Regions from separate parts of the Homo sapiens genome. Here region 1 is linked to region 2. Evidence: fine-mapped QTL for protein levels in blood plasma. Region 2 holds a variant in brackets. A gene starts in the other region. All regions are shown on their forward strands. Region 1 holds the start of CCL20 (C-C motif chemokine ligand 20). Region 2 overlaps NHERF1 (NHERF family PDZ scaffold protein 1).

What was found. A credible set is the group of variants that fine-mapping cannot tell apart. PIP is the chance, under the fine-mapping model, that this variant and not a neighbour inherited with it causes the effect. The UK Biobank Pharma Proteomics Project read protein levels with antibody pairs (Olink). The fine-mapping took linkage between variants from a reference panel, not from the people measured, so its PIPs are less certain.
Region 1: it holds the start of CCL20, and the variant in region 2 is the best candidate, but not a certain one, in a credible set for the plasma level of the CCL20 protein (UK Biobank, PIP 0.82).

The regions. Positions count from the first base shown.
Region 1 is chr2:227,807,660-227,818,121 of GRCh38, forward strand. CCL20 (C-C motif chemokine ligand 20) reads left to right here and starts at 6,183. Exons shown (of 4, transcript NM_004591.3): 1 at 6,183-6,328; 2 at 7,795-7,909; 3 at 8,648-8,725; 4 at 9,403-9,897. The coding sequence starts at 6,253. The coding sequence ends at 9,424. RefSeq lists an enhancer at 10,120-10,462.
Region 2 is chr17:74,759,176-74,768,499 of GRCh38, forward strand. NHERF1 (NHERF family PDZ scaffold protein 1) reads left to right here. Exons shown (of 6, transcript NM_004252.5): 2 at 2,837-2,998; 3 at 4,192-4,345; 4 at 7,761-7,801; 5 at 8,972-9,061; 6 at 9,293-9,324. Among named protein-coding and RNA genes, the nearest start is that of NAT9, 13 kb to the right of the region's middle. RefSeq lists enhancers at 1-412, 413-1,160, 3,813-4,564. The variant C/G (reference allele first, on the strand shown) is at 5,881.

The sequences.
Region 1 (10,462 bases), not on the chromosome of region 2:
CATGAGCCACCGCACCCACCCACATTTTAGAAAGTTTTAAAGGGACAAATATGAAATGGTACATCGATCAAAATAAGCACAAGGAAATGCAATTCTAGTCAATATAAAGATACTAAAAATAGTTTATTTATGGCTATTAAATGGAGAAGAAAAGAGATCTGTGATTAAGACATGAGAGAGAGGGAGGAGAAGAGACAACAGGAATGGAGGAAGGAGAAATGAACACAGACTATAGGGAACCAAGAGTAGTCGTAAAGAAAGAAAAAGCATCCATGGGCTGGGGTGCGTGTTAAGATGTAGGTACATGGAGAGTTCCTTTTTTGTTTTGTTTTGTTATCAGCTTTATTGAGATATAATTGACCTACCATAAAATGACCCTTTTTATGTAAACAATTCAGTGTGTTTTTAGTATATTTATAGGGTTGTGCAACCATCAACCATATGTATTTATAAATAAAAAATAAAAAACAAACCACATACCCCTTAGCAGTCACTCCCCAATCCCCTTCCCTTCCCTGGACACCACAACCCAGCCCTAGGCAGTCACTATTCTACTTCTCCTCTCCATAGATTCACCATTTCTGAACATTTTATGTAAATGGAATCAGACAATATGTGGTCTTTTGTGCTTGGCTTTTCCACTTAGCATAGTGTTTTCAAGGTTCATCCGTTTTGTAGTTTCTTTTTTCTTTTGGAGAAAGAGTCCCACTCTGTCACCCAGGCTGGAGTACAGTGGCACGATCTTGGCTCACTGCAACCTTCACCTCCCAGGTTCAAGCAATTCTCCTGCCTCAGCTTCCCAAGTAGCTGAGATTACAGGTGCAAGCCACCACTCCTGGCTAATTTTTGTATTTTTAGTAGAGATGGGGTTCTGTCATGTTGGCCAGGCTGGTCTCAAACTCCTGACCTCAAGTGATCCGTCTTCCTTGGCCTCCCAAAGTGCTGGGATTACAGGTGTGAGCCACCATGCCCAGCTTCATTTTGTAGTTTCTATCAGTATCTTATTGCTGAATAATATTTCGTTGTATTGATTTGCCAGGTTTAATTTATTTATATATCAGTTTATAACTTTTGGGCTGCTTCTACTTTTTTGGCTATTATGAATAATGCTGCTACAAACATTCACGTACACATTTTTGTGTGGACATATATTTTCATTTCTGTTGGGTGTAAACCTGGGAGTAGAATTGCTGGGTCACATGGTAACTCTCTAATTAACTATTTGAGGAATTGTCAAAGTGTCTTCCAAAATGACTGCACCATTTTTTTATTTCCATCAACAACATATAAGGATTCCAATTTCTCTACATCATTGCCAACACTTATTATTTGTCTTTTTGGTTATAGCTATCCTAGTGGATGTGAAGTGGTATGTCATGGTGGTTTTGATTTGCATTTTCCTACTTACTAAAAATTTTGAGCATCTTTTTATGTGCTTGTTGGACATTTATTTATCTTCTTAGGAGAAATGTCTATTCAGCTGTTTTCCTCATTTTTTAATTGGGTCACTCATCTTCTTCTTATTGAGTTGTAAGAGTTCTTTATATATTCTCTATACAAGTAAATGTCCCTTATCATATATATGACTTGCAAATTTTTCCTTTCCTTTCTATGCGTTTTCTTTTCACATTCTTTATAGTGTCCTTTGAAGCATAAAAATGTTTAGTTTTGATTTGGTCCAGTTCGTTAATTTTTAATTTTATTGTTTGAGCTTTTGGTGTTGTATCTAACAAGTCATTGCCCAACCCAAGGTCATGAAGATTTTCTCCTATGTTTTCTTCTAAGAATTTCATGTTTTTAACTCTTACATTGAGATCTATGATCCATTTTGAATTAATTTTTATATATAGTGTGAAGTAATGGTCTAACTTTATTCTTTTGCTGTGAATATCCAGTAGTTCCAGCACTATTTGTTGAAAAGACTGTTCTTCCCCCATTGAATGGTCTTGCCACCCTAACACAAAATCAGTTGACCATAGACATGGGGGCTTATTTCTCAATTGTATGCCATTGATGTGAACACTCATGCAATTTTCACATGTCTTGATTTAGTGTGATTTTTTAGTAAATTTTGAAATCAGAAAGTGTGAGTCTTCCAACTTTATTCTTCCTTTTTGGGATTGTTTTATCAATTCAAGGTCCCTTGCAATTTCACATGAATTTGAGTATTGGCTTTTCCATTTCTACAAAGAAGCCAGCCAGGATTTTAATAGAAATTGTGTTAAATAGGCCGGGCATGGTGGCTCACACCTGTAATCTCAACACTTTAGGAGTCTGAGGTGGGCGGAGCACCTGAGGTCAGGAGTTCAAGACCAGACTGGCCAACATGGCGACACCCTGTCTCTACTAAAAATACAAAATTAGCAAGGTGTGATGGTGCATGATTGTAGTTCCAACTACTTGGGAGGCTGAGGCAGGAGAATTGGCTGAACCTGGGAGGCAGAGGTTGCAGTGAGCCGAGATTGCGCCATTGCACTCCAGCCCGGGCAACAAGAGTGAAACTCCATCTCAAAAAAGAGAGAGAGAGAGAGGAAAAGAAAAGAAATTGTGTTGAATAGAAGCGGTGAGACTGAACATCCTTGTCTTGTCCTTGATCTCAGGGAAAAGGCAGTAAGTCTTTCAACATTGAGTGTGCTATCAGCTATGAGGCAGTCATAGATGACCTTTATCAGGTTGAGATGTTCTCTGCTATTCCTAGTTTGTTGAGTGTTTTGTCATGAGAAGGTGCTGGATTTTGTTAGTTACTTTTCATATAGTTTTTATTTTTATTCAATTAATTTGTAGTATTACATTTCCTGGAATAAATCCCACTTGTTATGGTGTATGGTCCTTTTACTATGTTGTTTTGTTTTTGTGTTTGTATTCGGAAAGGACATTGGTCTGTTGTTTTCTTTTCTTGTGATGTGTTTATCTTATTTTGGTGTCAGGATAATACTGTCCTCATAGAAGAAGTTGAAGAGGGTTCCCTTCTCTTCTATACTTTGAAAAAGTTTGTGAAGAACTGGTATTAATTCTTATTTGAATGTTTTGTAGAATTAACCAGTGAATTAATCTGGTCCTGAGGTTTTATTTGTGAAAAATATTTGGTTATCAATTTGATATCTTTACTTGTTATAGCTCTATTCAAATTTTCTATTTTTTTTTTGAGATGGAGTCTTGCTGTGTCGCCCAGGCTGGAGTACAATGACACGATCTTGGTTCACTGCAACCTCTACCTCCCGGGTTCACGCCATTCTCCTGCCTCAGCCTCCCTAGTAGCTGGGATCACAGGTGCCCGCTACCACACCAGGCTAATTTTTTGCATTTTTAGTAGAGACAGGGTTTCACCATGTTAGCCAGGATGGTCTCGATCTCCTGACCTTGTGCTCCTTCCGCCTTGGCCTCCCAAAGTGCTGGGATTACAGGCATGAGCCACCACGCCCATCCCAAATTTTCTATTTTCTTCTTGAATCAGGGTCAATAATTTGTGTCTTTCATCTCTATTCGTATCAGCTGTGAGGTGGTCATAGATGACTTTTATCAGGTTGAGAAAGTTCTCAACTATTCCTAGTTAGTTGAGTGTTTTTGTCATGACAACGTGTTGGATTTTGTCAGTTGCTTTTCAAATCATTTTTATTTTTTATTTGATTGATTTGTTGTATTACATTTCCTGGAATAAATCCCACTTGGTTATGGTGTATGATCTTTTTACTGTGCTGTCGGCATAGTAATTTTATTTGCATACAGTTTTTTTTTTTTTTTTTTTTTTTTTACCTCCCTTTCCTTTGTTTGGTTTGGTCTAGTCAAGGCTTGTTAGTTTTGTTGATCTTCTCAAAGAACTAACTTTCGCATTCGTTGATTTCCTCTATTGTTTTGCATTCTCTGTTTTATTTATTCCTGCTCTAATCTTCATTTCCCTCCTTCTGCATGCTTTGGGTTTAGCTTGCTCTGCTTTTCTCTAGTTTCTTAAGGTAGAAGTTTGGGTTATTGTTTTGAGATGTTTCTTTTTTTTTTTTTTTAATGTGAGTGTTTACAGCTATAAGTTTCCTTCTGAGGACTGCTTTTGCTACATCCTATAAGTTTTGATATGTTGTGGACTTTTTTTTACATTTCAAAGTTGTTTTCTACTTTCTCTAGTGACTTTTCTTTTGACACATTGTTGTTGTTGTTGTTGTTTTTTCCTTTGAGATGGAGTCTCTGTTGGCCAGGTTAGAGGGCAGTAGCGTGATCTCGGCTCGCCGTAACTTCTGCTTCCTGGGCTCATGCGATTCTCCTGCCTCAGCCTCCCAAGTAGCTGGGATTACAGGCATGGACTACCACACCCGGCTAATATTTGTATTTTTAGTAGAGACAGGGTTTCACTATGTTGGCCAGTCTGGTCTCGAACTCCTGACCTCAGGCAGTCCACCCACCTCGGCCTCCCAAAATGCTAGGATTACAGGCATGAGCCACCACTCCTGGCCAGACACATTGGTTATTTAGGAATATGTGGTTTCCTTTCTGTCTGTTACTGATTTCTGATTTAATTCCATTGTGGTTTGAATGTATACTTTATGTGATTTCAGTCGGTTTACATTTACTGAGACTTGTTCCATAACCTACCATATGCTTTATCCTAGAGAACATTCCATGTGCAACTATTCTGTTGATGTTGGATAGAGTAGTCCTTCGATGCCTGCTAAGTCTATTTGGCTTATAGTGTTGTTCAAGTCTTCTATTTTCTTGTGGATCTTCTGCCTAAATTTTATTAATTAGTGAAAATGTGGTACCAAAGCTGTCAACTTTTATTGTTAAATTTCCTATTCTGCTGGGCACGGTGGCTCATGCCTGTAATGAGGTCAGGAGTTCAGCCTGGGCAACATGGTGAAACCACGTCTCTACTAAAAATACAAAAATTCGCTGGGCGTGGTGGCACGTGCCTGTAGTCCCAGCTACTCAGGAGGCTGAGGCAGGCGAATCGCTTGAACCCAGGAGGCGGAGGTTGTAGTGAGCCGAGATGGTGCCACTGCACTCCAGCCTGGGCAACAAGAGCAAAATTCTGTCTCAAAAGAAATTATAATAATAAAATAAAATAAAATTTCCTATTCTTCCCTTCAATTCTGTCAGTTTTTGCTTTCTGTAGTTTGGGGTGCTACTGTTAGGTATATATATGGTTATAGGTTTTACATCTTCCCAATGGGTTAATTTTGTGTTACCATGAAAGTCCCTTTTTATTTCCGGTAACATTAAAAAAAAATCTATTTTGTCTGATATAGGCATCACCAACTCCAGTTCTCTTTTGTTTACTGTTTGGTATACCTTTCTTTTGATCCTTTTACTTTCAACCTATTTGGGTCTAGTGGAGAGTTCTTATACTGCCTTAGGTTAGGGATTCATATTACATTATCATCATTAGTACTGTTATTTGACATTTGCTGTGCTGACTAGCTACTGCTGATAGGTTTTCTTTCCTCAACAATTCTGAGGCTCTATATTGAGTTATATTAGTACATCATCATGGAGAGTTAAAGGTAGGTAAGGATTATTTTCTGAACTGCAATATTGATTAAAGCCATGTGAATGTATAAGATTCTTAGAAGAGTTGACATTAAATCAAGGTGAAGCTGAGGTTTGAGCCTTACTTAAAGGCTGATATTTTCCACTCTAACTGCGGACAGTACTGTAGCACTGTTATAGTACCTGCTCTGAATGTTAGTCTAGCAACTCAGGGTCTTCTTCATGACAGCTGAACCTCAACCATGTGATGGTAAATGTGTAGCAGAGTATGCCTGGCATCCCACCTGCTCCTCCTCCCCCTCCTCCTTGACTGGTTCTGGAAAGCAAATAGGGTGTAACAATAGGAGTTCTGGAATGTTCCTGTGTGGGGCTGACCTTTGTATCGCTGTTAATCCTCTATTTTCAGACACAAAAATGATTAAGTTAAAACTGGATGAAAGTCTTTTCTGGGTCACAGGGCTGAGCTGCTTTTGCTCTTTGCAAATACAAAGAATTTAACAGGATTCTCCCCTTCTCAACTTCCTGTCCCCCACCCTGACCTTCGCACCTTCCCAATATGAGGAAAAAGCAGGAAGTTTTCCTTGCGGGTTTTTTTTATGATGACATGATGGGGCCAGTTGATCAATGGGGAAAACCCCATGTGGCAACACGCCTTCTGTGTACATTCCCAATATTTGCTATAAATAGGGCCATCCCAGGCTGCTGTCAGAATATAACAGCACTCCCAAAGAACTGGGTACTCAACACTGAGCAGATCTGTTCTTTGAGCTAAAAACCATGTGCTGTACCAAGAGTTTGCTCCTGGCTGCTTTGATGTCAGTGCTGCTACTCCACCTCTGCGGCGAATCAGAAGGTAAGTGTCGCTCTTTCCGCTAGCACAGAAGAAAGACTATTTTCATTTTCCTTTTAGCCTTGAGCTCAACTGGGGGTCCCTAAGGGATGGAAAACTGTTAGGAAGTATACAAGAGGTAGTGATGGAAGTTGTCTGCCCATGGTGGAGTGGAGGAGAGAAGAGTTACTGCTGCGGATCAGGCTTTCCTCTCTGCTGTCAATCTCAGCAGATTTGGGGAGTGGTGGGCTCTTAGAGATCCCTAAACTTCAGGATAAAGCCAAAGTGATGTTTCTGGGAGTGATATAAAGTGTGTAATGTTACCAGTAGATGGGGCCATTTTGAAATGTAGAGAATCCTCCTGTGTCCCCAACTTTCGTACCTCCCAACTTAATAGTTTTGGTAAAGTTCAAAACTCATCCTTTAGAAGTAGATTATAATACCTGACATCAACATCCCCACAAGGCATGGGGGACATTGCTTGCCAACTTTAAAATAACATTAATCCCTTACCTTACAGCATGTTGTAATCTGACTCGGGAATGTCCAAGTATTGCTTTATTGCTCAATAGTCACACAACACTTTTAGCAACAGGTGCATTCCTAAAAATGCACATTGAATTTTTTTTTTTTTCTGAGGCAGGGTCTAACTTCATCACCCAGGCCAGAGTGCAGTGGCATGATTACAGCTCACTACAGCCTCAACCTCCTGGAGTCAAGTGAACCTCCAGTCTCAGCCTCTTGAATAACAGGGACCACGGCCGTGTGCCACTCACCTGGCTAATTTTTTTACATTTTTTTTTTTTTTGTAGAGACAGGGTTTCACTGTGTTGCCCAGGCTGGTCTCGAACTCCTGGAGGCAAGCAATCCTTCCTCCTTGGCCTCCCAAAGTGCTGGGATTACAGGCATGAGCCACCATGCCCAACCACATGTTGAACTTTTATGAACAAAATTAAACATTCCTATTAATTAATAGGACAATTTCAAAGTGTTTTCACTCCTATAAATCATATTTCCCTTTGTAGCTCTATTTCTCAATACTTAGTAGCCAGATAATAGATTAAAATCTGCCAATTTATTCATTTTCTGCTTTTGGAAGTTTATCTACATAAGGGTTCCTTCAAGCAGTAGGGAAGGGGCTGCTCATATTCTTGAATGATTATAGTGAACTGAAATGAAATATTGTCAATTTGTATTTCTTACTGAAGATATCCCACTTATGAGAAGTCCTGTGTTTCTCAATTCTATTATTGAACCAAAACTTCTCGGCACACAAACTGTTTTTTCAAAGAACTGTAAACTATGTTAGATTGGTTCTCAACGACCTTACAAAGGTTTCCAAGACATTGAAACTCCTCCTCTAAGTGGTTTATTCGTCATATACATGAGATTCACTAGATTTTTCACAACTTAAGGTAGTTTTATAATACCAATCACAGGATAAGTTTATTCATGTGGATCCAATACCTTTCACTTTTTTTTTTTTTTAGCAGCAAGCAACTTTGACTGCTGTCTTGGATACACAGACCGTATTCTTCATCCTAAATTTATTGTGGGCTTCACACGGCAGCTGGCCAATGAAGGCTGTGACATCAATGCTATCATGTAAGTTATTAATTGATTTTAATTCAGTTGTATCAGGAATACCTAGAAACTTCAGTTTTAAAAATGTTTGCCTTTTTAGAGTTTCATTCAGAAATTACTGATGTTTTGAACATAAGATCTTATTTTAAAGAGAAAGAAATGATGTGGCAAAGATAGCTTTGTCTTAGTACATATCTACTTTAAAGTTCACTTTAAACAGGACTGGAATAAGGCAAAACCTTTTTTAAAAATTTTTTTTGGTCAAACGGAACTAGTATAGGGCAAAAATCACTTTCTAAGGCTATTAAAGTGATATATTAGGAAAATAGGGAAGATACACATTTCGAAATGAGCATCTTCTACCAGAAAGTGTTTGAGACCAAAAGTAAAATCTCAGACTAATTATACTATCACATATAATTTTCTTGATTTATATAGGATATTATATTTTGGAATTATACAAGTTATTGATCAGATACATACATATTCTATGTAACCACCAATAGCAAAATTATATGACAATTCTGGGACTTTATCTTCCTGCCATTGTACTATTATTTGTTACATTGCAGAGAAAGAGAGAATCACTTTGATTTTGCATTAATCTTCATCAGAAGCATTTTTTGTGCATTTTATTTTACCTCATCAACTGAAATGTTTAGTGTGTAATCAACTGGAATATAAAATTTCCATTGTATGTTCTATGAAAAACCCATTGAAAAGCTCATTAAACACAAATCAAATTTTCTGATTTTTCAGCTTTCACACAAAGAAAAAGTTGTCTGTGTGCGCAAATCCAAAACAGACTTGGGTGAAATATATTGTGCGTCTCCTCAGGTATGTTACACTGACATTTAGCCTTTGCAAATGTTTGAGGAAAGAGGAGTGTGCAAAGGGGTGGGCCGTAGGTTTTCTGGGATTCTTTAGTTTAACTATTGTGGAATTTTTAAAGGGAAAATTTGAGTTGGACCACAAAAACAAAGAATGCATTTTTCCACTTACAGATCATCATCGTTATTATTATTTTAATTTAGTGATTTCTTACATGATGTATTAGATTTCTCTATGCATTTGATAGTTACTAGCTGCCTGATTCTTGTTGCAAAGATGCCTACTATTTATATAATTTAAAGGCAATCTGGCATTTGGTTGTTTGTTAAAAACTGAAAAATGAACATTAGTTAAACAGAGATCAATGGTTCTGATTTACGTTGACAATAATAGACAGTAACACTTTATCAATGGACAGAAGGCACCTAACACCAGCATGCCATAGATACTGAACTTGGAGACACAAGATAAGTGTCCATAGCCTGTTTCTGTCATTAATGAGCTGAGTTAGGTTGGGCAAGGGCCATCCTCTCTAAACCTCAATTTCCTCATCTGAACTCTGAGCTGCTTGACATACTGAGTTGAGATTAAGGGCAGGTGAAGCAACCTTTAGGTACCAAAGTCATTCCCACCATGCAGTCACCTTGTCATTACTTACACTTTTCTTCTTTTTCATTTTACAGTAAAAAAGTCAAGAACATGTAAAAACTGTGGCTTTTCTGGAATGGAATTGGACATAGCCCAAGAACAGAAAGAACCTTGCTGGGGTTGGAGGTTTCACTTGCACATCATGGAGGGTTTAGTGCTTATCTAATTTGTGCCTCACTGGACTTGTCCAATTAATGAAGTTGATTCATATTGCATCATAGTTTGCTTTGTTTAAGCATCACATTAAAGTTAAACTGTATTTTATGTTATTTATAGCTGTAGGTTTTCTGTGTTTAGCTATTTAATACTAATTTTCCATAAGCTATTTTGGTTTAGTGCAAAGTATAAAATTATATTTGGGGGGGAATAAGATTATATGGACTTTCTTGCAAGCAACAAGCTATTTTTTAAAAAAAACTATTTAACATTCTTTTGTTTATATTGTTTTGTCTCCTAAATTGTTGTAATTGCATTATAAAATAAGAAAAATATTAATAAGACAAATATTGAAAATAAAGAAACAAAAAGTTCTTCTGTTGATTGAGTTTTATATCATTTTTATGATGTGTATTGAAACCATTTCCAGGCACAGAAAATATAAGAATTTTCTGAGAAATTATATCCTCCACTTACTTCTAGTTGTTCCCTTTATCTCGGCCCCTCATGGCCCTGGACTTGATTTTACATGAATTATAATGGAACAGTTGTTCTTTTTTTTCTTTAATTCAAAGTCGTCCAGATTAAAAGTTGAAAAAGATCCTATATCTGAGATTCATAACCCAATGTTTATTGATTTAAGAAAACTGTTTAAAATAAGAAACCATGCCCACACACCTTTTGACTACAGGGACACAACAACCATTTAGAATATACCTTCAGGCATCACTTCTTCCATCCTTCTGTCACCAGCCAGGATCTCAGCATACGAACATTTCTCCATTTAAAAGTCCTCCCGAGTCATCTTTAAGCAGTTTCCGAAAGGAAAATGACTATTCAGAGAGTTCTTAGTGGCTGCCTTGCTAACCAGCGGGGAGCCCCCAGACGTGTGAAACCTGGTAAGAGCCCAGCAATCAGGATGAAAAGACTCTGAACCAG
Region 2 (9,324 bases):
TCTCCTTGTCCAGCCACCCCCTCAGGTCCTGGAGCCGCCACAGAGCCACATCTAGACAGAACAGTGGAGCAGGTCCCAGTGCAGGGGAAGGAAACAGAGGGCACCTGAGCCCCTCAGGCTGGGTACCCTGTTTCCCCTTGAACTGCACGACTTGGTGCTGGCAGAGCGGAGCAAGGCTCAAAGCAGGCCCTGGAGCTTTGGCACCATATGTCACTAGGCGAGGGGCACTGGGCTGAAGATCAGTAAGGGAAGCCCACAGCACAGAGACCAGGGCCAGAGGATGGGCATCCCAAAGGCAGCTAGCACAGCCCTGCCCTGCCAGCCGGGGGGGGCGCCCAGAGCCACCTGCCCCCAGTCCAGCCATGCCCCTGCCCTGTCACCCACACCAGGCTTCATCCCCCAGCTCAGGCTGCAGCTCCAGCTGCGAGAGGCCCTGAGCGCCCGGAAGGAAGGCTGTGGTAGGTTGTGGTTTCTTCAGCTCCCAGCCTACCTCCAGCAGAGGCTGCAGCCGATGCCCTGGAGAGAGCCCCTGTCTGCCCTCTGCTGCCTGACTCCTGTTGGGTCCTCACCTCCCAATGGGTTGCCCCATTCTGGACTTGGATCCTTAAGGAGCACCCTGCAGTGTGGTGGAAGGAGGACAGGTTCCAAGTCAGAGACCAGGGTTGGAGTTCTGGCTGTGTGATGTCAGGCAGTGGGCTCCACATCTCTGAGCCTCAGTTTCCCCATCTCAAAAACAGCTGACAAGCCCCAGTCAGGTTGTTATGGGAAGGTTTTTGGGAGCGCAGGGACGGTGGAGGGAGGTTGGAGGAGGTCACTAGAGCTGCCCCCTGCCTGTCCTGAGATTTCACCCTCCCCACTTTCTCAGGGTGTCTGGCTGAAGCAGAAAGCTGCGCCTGTCCTGGTGACGGCGACTGGTCAGACTTGTTTCTGCTCACCTAGGCGGCCCGGGGGAGGGCCTGGCTGGGAGCTTTGTGGAGGGATTAGCTCTAGGGGAGAAGAGCCTCACTTACTCCCGGAACAAGATCCCACAGGGCTGTGGGAGTGCCGGGGGGTGAGCCTGGGGCAGGTGACAGCCGAACTAGCTGGGAGTGGGCCCTGCAGTGAGGCAGGGGGTGGGCCAGGGAGAACAAGGCAAGAGGAGCTTCATTCAGGGTTCCTGAGCCTTTGTGAGCCACTCACGTTTTTACCACTCACTTAACCGTCTTTGTTGTTGGGGTGAGGGGTCCTCGAGCCTGGATTTGGGTATGAAAACCCAGGCAAGAAAGACCTGCCCAAGCCTTTAAAGGAATGCAAAGTCATCCTCTAGCCACCCCCAGAGATCGAAAGGCTGGGGATTGAGTCTCCTGCAGATGGTGGCGGCCTCCTGGGGCTGGCAAGTTGGGACAGAGGCCCATAAGCCCTCCTGGGCGCGCCTTCCCACCCCTCTCGGCCCTCTCCACTCCCAGCTGGGGATTTGGGTTTCAGAGCAGCCTGGCACACACACCCCCACCCCACCAGAATCTCACTCCCAGCTTCCTATGACTATTCATTAGTATTCACAACAATGGGAAAGTCTGGGTGTGCACAGGGATTTTTTACAGTTAGAAAGTGTTTAAGTCAATGACCTCACTGGGCCTCAGCAACCCTGGGAGGCAGATGGCAGTCAGAATGATCCATAAATGACCTGCCCCAGGTCACACAGCTCCTAAACAGGGGAGCTGGAACCTGGCTGGGAGCCTTGACTATCCACTGCTCATTGTCTGATGTGCTGAGTGATAACACAGGGCCAGCAGGCTGGACAGCAGCCAGTGGCCCTGCACCAGGCCTGGAGGAGGGGGAGAGGGACAGGGACTCAGGCGTAGTCCTTGGGCACAGGCTTCGGCTGCCTACACCCATATTCCCTCCATCATACTGTGTGTCCAGGCCTGCAGCTTCTAAGCTGAGCTGCTTACTTTGGACCAAGCATGTTGGAAACTGTTTTCAGCTGAGTCCAAGCACTCGAAATCTGCGTGTGCCCTTTTAGTAGGTCACACCCTCCAGGCCACAGCCACACTGGGCTCCCTTTAGCCCAGCCCTGCTTTTCCCAGTCCCCTCCCCATTCAGGCTCCTCTGTTTCTGGGGTCTCTGTGCTTCCGTTGCCACCTCTGCCCTTGGGCAGCGGTGTCGGGGGAGGAGGTCCTGGAACGCCTGAGGATGGCCCCGTCTTGTCCAGGTCCCCTTGCTGTGCTGAACAATAAGTTTTTGGTTATCTGCTCCTTCTGGCTCCCTTTTGGCTGGGCCATTCGGCTTGGTGGGGGTGAGAGAGAGTTCGAGTATATGGAGGAAGGCTTTACTGTAAACACACTGACCAGCTTTCAGTAAACACCTGCCTCTTCCTCCCCTGCTGCAGAGAACGGGGTACAAAGGGGCTGGGGGTCCTCAGTCATATGCCCCAGGTCCCCAGCCAGGCTGACGGGTGCCACACTCTGCCCCCTCTCCAGGAGGGCCAGACTGAGCCACCAATGGGGAGGGATAGAGGCCCGATCAACACAGCATGTGATTCACCTTAGACTGTCAGAAGGGACAGGCATGTGAGAGCTAACCTGGTCCTACCCCTCATTTGGCAGAAGAGGAAACTGAGGCTTGGACAGAGCAGTGTTTTATCCACATCACCTAAGCAGTTAGCTGCGGTGCTGGGTATCCACACAAGTCTTTTGAGTCCTGGGCCAGAACCCTCTCAAATTGCTGTGTAGGGATCTAGGCAAATTTGCATCCTCCCAAACCTTCCTTGGTTGGGGAGATGGGGACAGGCAGAGGACAGGGAAGGCAGAACCTGGGGCACTGTGGAATAGCCATGGACCCTCCCCTGTCCCTGCAGCGCGAGCTTCGGCCTCGGCTCTGTACCATGAAGAAGGGCCCCAGTGGCTATGGCTTCAACCTGCACAGCGACAAGTCCAAGCCAGGCCAGTTCATCCGGTCAGTGGACCCAGACTCCCCGGCTGAGGCTTCAGGGCTCCGGGCCCAGGATCGCATTGTGGAGGTGATGCTTCTCGCTCTCTTCCTATCTGACTGCCCCCACCCCCTGCAGATCAGCAGCACCTGGGGCAGCCATCATACCATCATGGGCTTGATTAGCCCACGGGCATAGCCAACCTGGAGCTGCTGGATGGATGGGTGGATGGGAGGGAGGGAGGGAAGGGTGGTGGATGGATAGACGGAAGGACAGATGGACTGACTGATGGACTCTTCTCTTACCTCCACTCCCCTGGACTCCTCCTTGCCAAGCAGATACAGTGGGCAGCCTGTGATTCACCCATCGATCAGGGAGATGTCTGGGGCCATCTCCAGAGCTTCCCTGCTGCCAGGCACACAGAGTGGGGTGGCAGTAACAAAACCCCTCTCCTGAGTTAGGCCTTTATTTATTTAGTTTTTTTTTTTTTAAATGGAGTCTCGCTTTGTTGCCCAGGCTGGGGGAGTGCAGTGGCACAATCCCAGCTCACTGCAACCTCCGCCTCCTGGGTTCAAGCGATTCTCCTGCCTCAGCCTCCTGAGTAGCTGGGATTACAGGTGCCCACCACCACGCCTGGCTAATGTTTGCATTTTTAGTAGAGACAGGATTTCACCATGTTGGCCAGGCTGGTCTCAAACTCCTGACCTCAAGTGATCTGCCCGCCTCGGCCTCCCAAAGTGCTGGGATTCCAGGCGTGAGCCACCTCACCCGGCCCCGAGTTAGGCTTTTAGACTCGTGCATTCAGGGCTCTGGTGCTGTGCTCCTGGGAGAGGAAACGTGAACCAAATGCTCAGGCAGGTCCCAGAATCACAGTCTTAGAACCTTAGAGCTAGAGATCAGCTCTCCCAAGACTTCTCATTTTACACGTGAGAAAACCAAGGCCCAGAGAAGGAAGTCGGACAGCAAGTCCTTACCCAGGCTGGGCCCCACCCCGGCCTCCCAGCTCGCTCCCATCCCATCTCTCCCAGCTGTGTTTGTTTAGTCTCGTCTGGATATTTTCGTTGGCCCTTCCCATGTATCCTGCCTCCCCAGCTGACTGTCAATGGGAGGACCCCCAGCCTAGTTCAGGACTCTGCAGAAATGGCGGGGGTCAGTATCCCCAGGTTGTGAACTGCAAACTGGCTGAGAACCAAGGTGGTCACCCCTGCCCCCAACCCCCCTCCACTTACCTGCCCCAGAACCAAGGCCTGTGTCCGTAACGCCTCCCCGACCCTGCCCTGCAGGTGAACGGGGTCTGCATGGAGGGGAAGCAGCATGGGGACGTGGTGTCCGCCATCAGGGCTGGCGGGGACGAGACCAAGCTGCTGGTGGTGGACAGGGAAACTGACGAGTTCTTCAAGAAATGCAGAGTGATCCCATCTCAGGAGCACCTGAATGGTAAGCCAGGTGGGGCCACTGGCCGTCCTGGGGCTGGAGCCCCCCAAGTCAGGGATGTGAGCCAGGGCTAAGACTGCTGGGTCCCAGGCGAGGGGTGGGCAGCTTCCCGGCATGGGTGCTCCCTCCTCCTCCTTCATGGGAGGCCCAGAGGTGTGGGCTGGGGGAGCGGGGGCCTAGTGTAGGGAGTGGCAGTGGGTTTCTGAGGACGGCTTGTGATGGGGTCAGCTGGCATGAGGTCGGTGAGAGAGATGGACAGATCTTCTTATTCCCGGCCAAAGCTGCAGCCCCAAAGGAGGCCCAAGCCCCCAGTCCTGTCCCCACCAGCAGACTTTCAGGGCAGTGTCAATGTGAGGAAAGGGTTAACTCCGGGGAGGCCTCCAGCCTTTGCTTGGTCAGATCAGAGTCCAGTGACGGGGGCCGGTGCCTCCCCCTCCCTCCTCTCAGGTTGTCTTGGAAACTCAGCCTTGCTGGCTCTAGAGAGTAGTGGGTCCCCCTTCAATCCCTGGGCCCCTGCCCTCCCCATCCCCCACCATCACCCTGCCAAGCCTGGCGCCTCCCCCTGCCCAGGCCCGAGCCAAACAGGGCAGGGCTGCTGCACCGGGGCAGGGAGGGGTTAAGCATGCTCTGCTCCTTGGTCTGGACTTTCTCCCTGGGAAGATGGCTCCCTGGAGCGGGCAGGGGTGCTCACTGGGCCATACTGAGGGTGGAACCTCTTGGGACTTTGCAGTGGGTGGGGCCTCCTGGAGACTCAAGGTTGTATGTGTAAAAGGAGATTCACACAAAGGTCCTGCGACTCCCATCGCCAGCTGCAAGGGCCCACTGGGGAGGCCCTGTCCCCTTCTGGCGCAATCCAAGGCCTGAGGCTCCTAGAAGAGGGGATGGCCCCTGGAAGTCCCTAGCTGGCTCTGGGCATGGGAGGTGGGGTACCGCCTTACCCTTATCTCCCAAGTTCATGGAAACCAGGTAACTCAGATAATCCCCTTCTCCACTGAGGGGGAGACTAAGGCCCAGAGAAGCCCCAGCCTTCCTCCTAGGGATCTGATACGAGGAAGACACAGCTGGAATCTGGATTCCACTCAGCTCCTGGGATACTGTCCCCTGCTTCCCCCACCCCTTCACCCTGCAGGTAATTGGCCCCCTCAGACATTCCTCCCTCTTCTGCCTGTCTCTCGGGCTAGAGGGGCTGCAGCCTCTGGCCAAAGGACCTGAAGAGGGAGAGGCCTGGGGACAGTCCCCTCCCCGCAGTCCCTCCAGGATGGCATCCTCACCCTTTCCATAGGGAGGAATGCCCCCCTCTCCGGCTGCCAGGGTTTCACCCTGACCACTGTGAGCTGATGGGGAGGGGACAGTGAGTGACCCTGTGTCCCAGCAGCCTGTCCTTGCCCGGGGAAGGCTGTGGGTGTCAAAAGGGAGGAGAAGATGAGAGTCAGGTATCTCTGGCTGTGTCCTGGACTGGGGACAGGGAAAAGATAACCAGGAATTTTAAGCTAAGAGTTCAGAAGAAGCCCTACACTGACCAGTCCCTGGAGATGGAA[C/G]AGCCACCCCTGAAGCCATGTGGGACCCCTACCCTGAGTGAGCCCAGTGAAGGTGACCCCAGACCTGTCTTCTCTCCCTCTGACCCCTCCAGGTTTCCCACTGGCTGGGGGAGGGGATACCCAGGACACACCCCTTGAGCCTTCTCGTCCCCCCTCATTTCCTGATTGGCAAATAGGAGTTGGGATTATTTTCTCTTTTTTTCTTTTTCTTTTTCTTTTTTTTGAGATGGAGTCCTGCTCTGTCACCCAGGCTGGAGTGCAGTGGTGCGATCTCGGCTCACAGCAACATCTGCCCCTAGATTCAAGTGATTCTTCTGCCTCAGTCTCCTGAGTAGCCGGGACTACAGCCATGCGCCACCACGCCCAGCAAATTTTTATATTTTTAGTAGAGATGGGGTTTCACTATGTTGGCCAGGATGGTCTCGATCTCTTGACCTTGTGATCCGCCCACCTCGGCCTCCCAAAGTACTGCGATTACAAGTGTGAGCCACCGCGCCTGGCCTTTTTTTTTTTTTTTCCGGACACAGTCTCTGTCACCCAGGCTAGAGTGCAATGGCACAATCTTGGCTCACTGCAACCTCCACCTCCTGGGTTCAAGCAATTCTCCTGCCTCAGCCTCCTGAGTAGCTGGGATTACAGGCGCCTGCCACCATGCCCGGCTAATTTTTGTATTTTTAGTAGGGATAGGGTTTCGCCATGTTGGCCAGGCTGGTCTTGAACTCCTGACCTCAGGTGATCCGCCTGCCACAGTCTCCCAAAGTGCTGGGGTCCCAGTCATGAGCCACCGAGCCCAGACTATTTTCTCTTTCAGTTGAGGCAGGTACTAACTATAGTCTGGGGTGTGGTTCCAATTTTGGTGTCATCATCATCACCTGGGAAGCGTTTGGAAAATGTTGATTCTTAGGCCTGCCCACTAAACCAGAATCTGTGCTGCCAAGGTCCAGGAATCTGTACTTTAACAAGCTTCCCACGTAGGAGTTCCCAGGTAGGAATTCCCAGGTAGGAATTAGGCAGCCATCCTCGAATTTCATCCCCATCTGAGACAATACATTTTTTAAACACCTTGTGACCCATCAGTGCCTCATAAGATCAATTTAGTAGATAGAGACCAGCAGGTTTTTTGGTTTGTTTTTTTTGTTTTGTTTTGTTTTGTTTTGTTTTGCCAGAGTCTTGCTGTGTTGCCCAGGCTGGAGTGTAGTGGCGTGATCTCGGCTCACTGCAACCTCCACCTTCTGGGTTCAAACAATTTTCCCACCTCAGCCTCCCAAGTAGCTAGGATTACAGGCGTGTGCCACCATGCCCAGCTAATTTTCTTTTTGTCTTTTTTAGTAGAGACGGGGTTTCACCATGTTGGCCAGGCTGGTCTCAAACTCCTAACCTCAAGTGATCCAGGTGCCTCGGCCTCCCAAAGTGCTGGGATTACTGGTGTGAGCCACTATGCCTGGCCCAGACATTTTTTTGTTTTTTTTAATGAAATGAAATTAAAAATATCAAAGAACACTGTAGTAAGGGTGTTGCTTTGTGAAACTTTTATCACACAAAATCTTTGTGTGTGCTGAGTCATCAAAATGGCAAACGTAGGCCAGACATTTGCTCACACCTGTAATCCCAACACTTTGGGAGGCCAAGGTGGAAGGATTGCTTGGGGCTAGGAGTTTGAGACCATCCTGCATGACATGGCAAGGCCCCATCTCTATAAAAAAAAAATTTTTTTTAAATAAATAAGGCAAATGTATTCATGGTGGGTGGTAGTCAAAAAAGTTTGAGATGTTGACCCAGGGAACAAGATCTAATAATCTGCCCAAACCCAACTCCTACCTCCTCTCCACGCTCTATTCCATCCCCGTTCTGGACTCACCTCTGCTCTGTCCTTTGCCTAGGTCCCCTGCCTGTGCCCTTCACCAATGGGGAGATACAGAAGGTAAGGGCGGGTCCCCTGTCTCTTTGGATTTCAATCCTTGGGGTGCATGAGACAGATCAGAAGGTGCTGTGGTTGGTAGGATAGCCATCTGACTAAGGCCAAAACCCCAGGGTCCCCAGTTCCAGCTCCTTCTTCAGCTCCAAGCTATAGAACTGCCAGAACCCTCTTGGCCTCTGCCTGGGGCCAAAGCTGTCAGGAGGGAGCGGGCTGGCTGGGCCCCTCTGCAGCCCGCCATCCTGGGTGACAAGCCCCCGCCTCCAACTCCCCACCATACAGAAGGGGCCATTCTTCCCCCCAAGAACAGAGCTTCAGTGTCTGGCCACGGGCAGCCGGGCCCCTGCTACTTCTAGTCTGGGTTGGAAGAACAAAGCCCCTCCTCCCCCCTTCCCTGGGCAGAAGGGAAAGGGGGTGAGGCCCGGGGAAGAGATGGTGGGGCTGGGCGCCAGCTGAAGCCATGGAGGAACCCAGGAAGGGGCTGGGTGCCAAGCTGACGCCCCAGCCAAAGCCTTCGCTCTGGGACAGGCCGACTCAGTCAGGCCACAGAGCAGGAACTCTGCAGGGTCTGCTTAAAGGTTCCCCTTCCCTAGGAGCTCCTGCCAGGGTACTTGGCAAGGGGGAGGGCCCTTGGACCCAGCCCTCAACCTTCTTTCACCTCATCTTTGGATCTAGAACTTTCCATCCACCTTCTTCTTTCAAGGCCCTCCTTTGCTGCTTCAGGGTTAGGGTTTCAGGATTCCTGGGGTCAAATCCTGGCAAACAGTCAGGTGGACCACATGAGATTCAGGGAGCACCACATGGGCTCCCCATGCCCCCATGTGTCCCCACATTCCAAGAAGCCCCTCCCTGGTCACTGGCCCAAAAGGCAAGCCAGTACCTAAAAGCCACATTGGAGTGGCCCAGGGAGAGGGAGCGGTTCAGCTAATCCCATGATGGTCTGTTCCCATCCCATCCCTCCAGCCTGAGCAGTAGAACCAGCCTGCCCTCTGATCCCCAAAGGAATGTAAAAAGGAGCCCCAGCAGGCTCAGGAGGTGGGAACCAGGGGTGGGTGGCCAGGGCATCAGTGCTACCTCTTCTCAGTCTGAGGCCCCTACTTCCCCAGGAGCTCCCTCCCTCCTCAGGACCCCCTCACCCCATCCTCTGACAACCCACAACCCTCTCCTCTCTGCCAGGAGAACAGTCGTGAAGCCCTGGCAGAGGCAGCCTTGGAGAGCCCCAGGCCAGCCCTGGTGAGATCCGCCTCCAGTGACACCAGCGAGGAGGTAGGCCAGCCATGCGGGGGGTGGCAACTGGGTTACAGGAAGCCGATTCCCAGGCCCCACTTGTTCCTGGCACACCAGCCTGCCTTTGAGGTCACATGCTGAGCCGCATTCTGTTCTTGTGACCTGGCTTCCCTGGGCACGGCCCCAACGGAGCCACCTCACCAAGGCTGAGGACCAGGGAGCCTAATGAGGGACTGACTCCCAACTTCCTGCCCCCACTTCTCTTTACAGCTGAATTCCCAAGACAGCCCCCCAAAACAGGA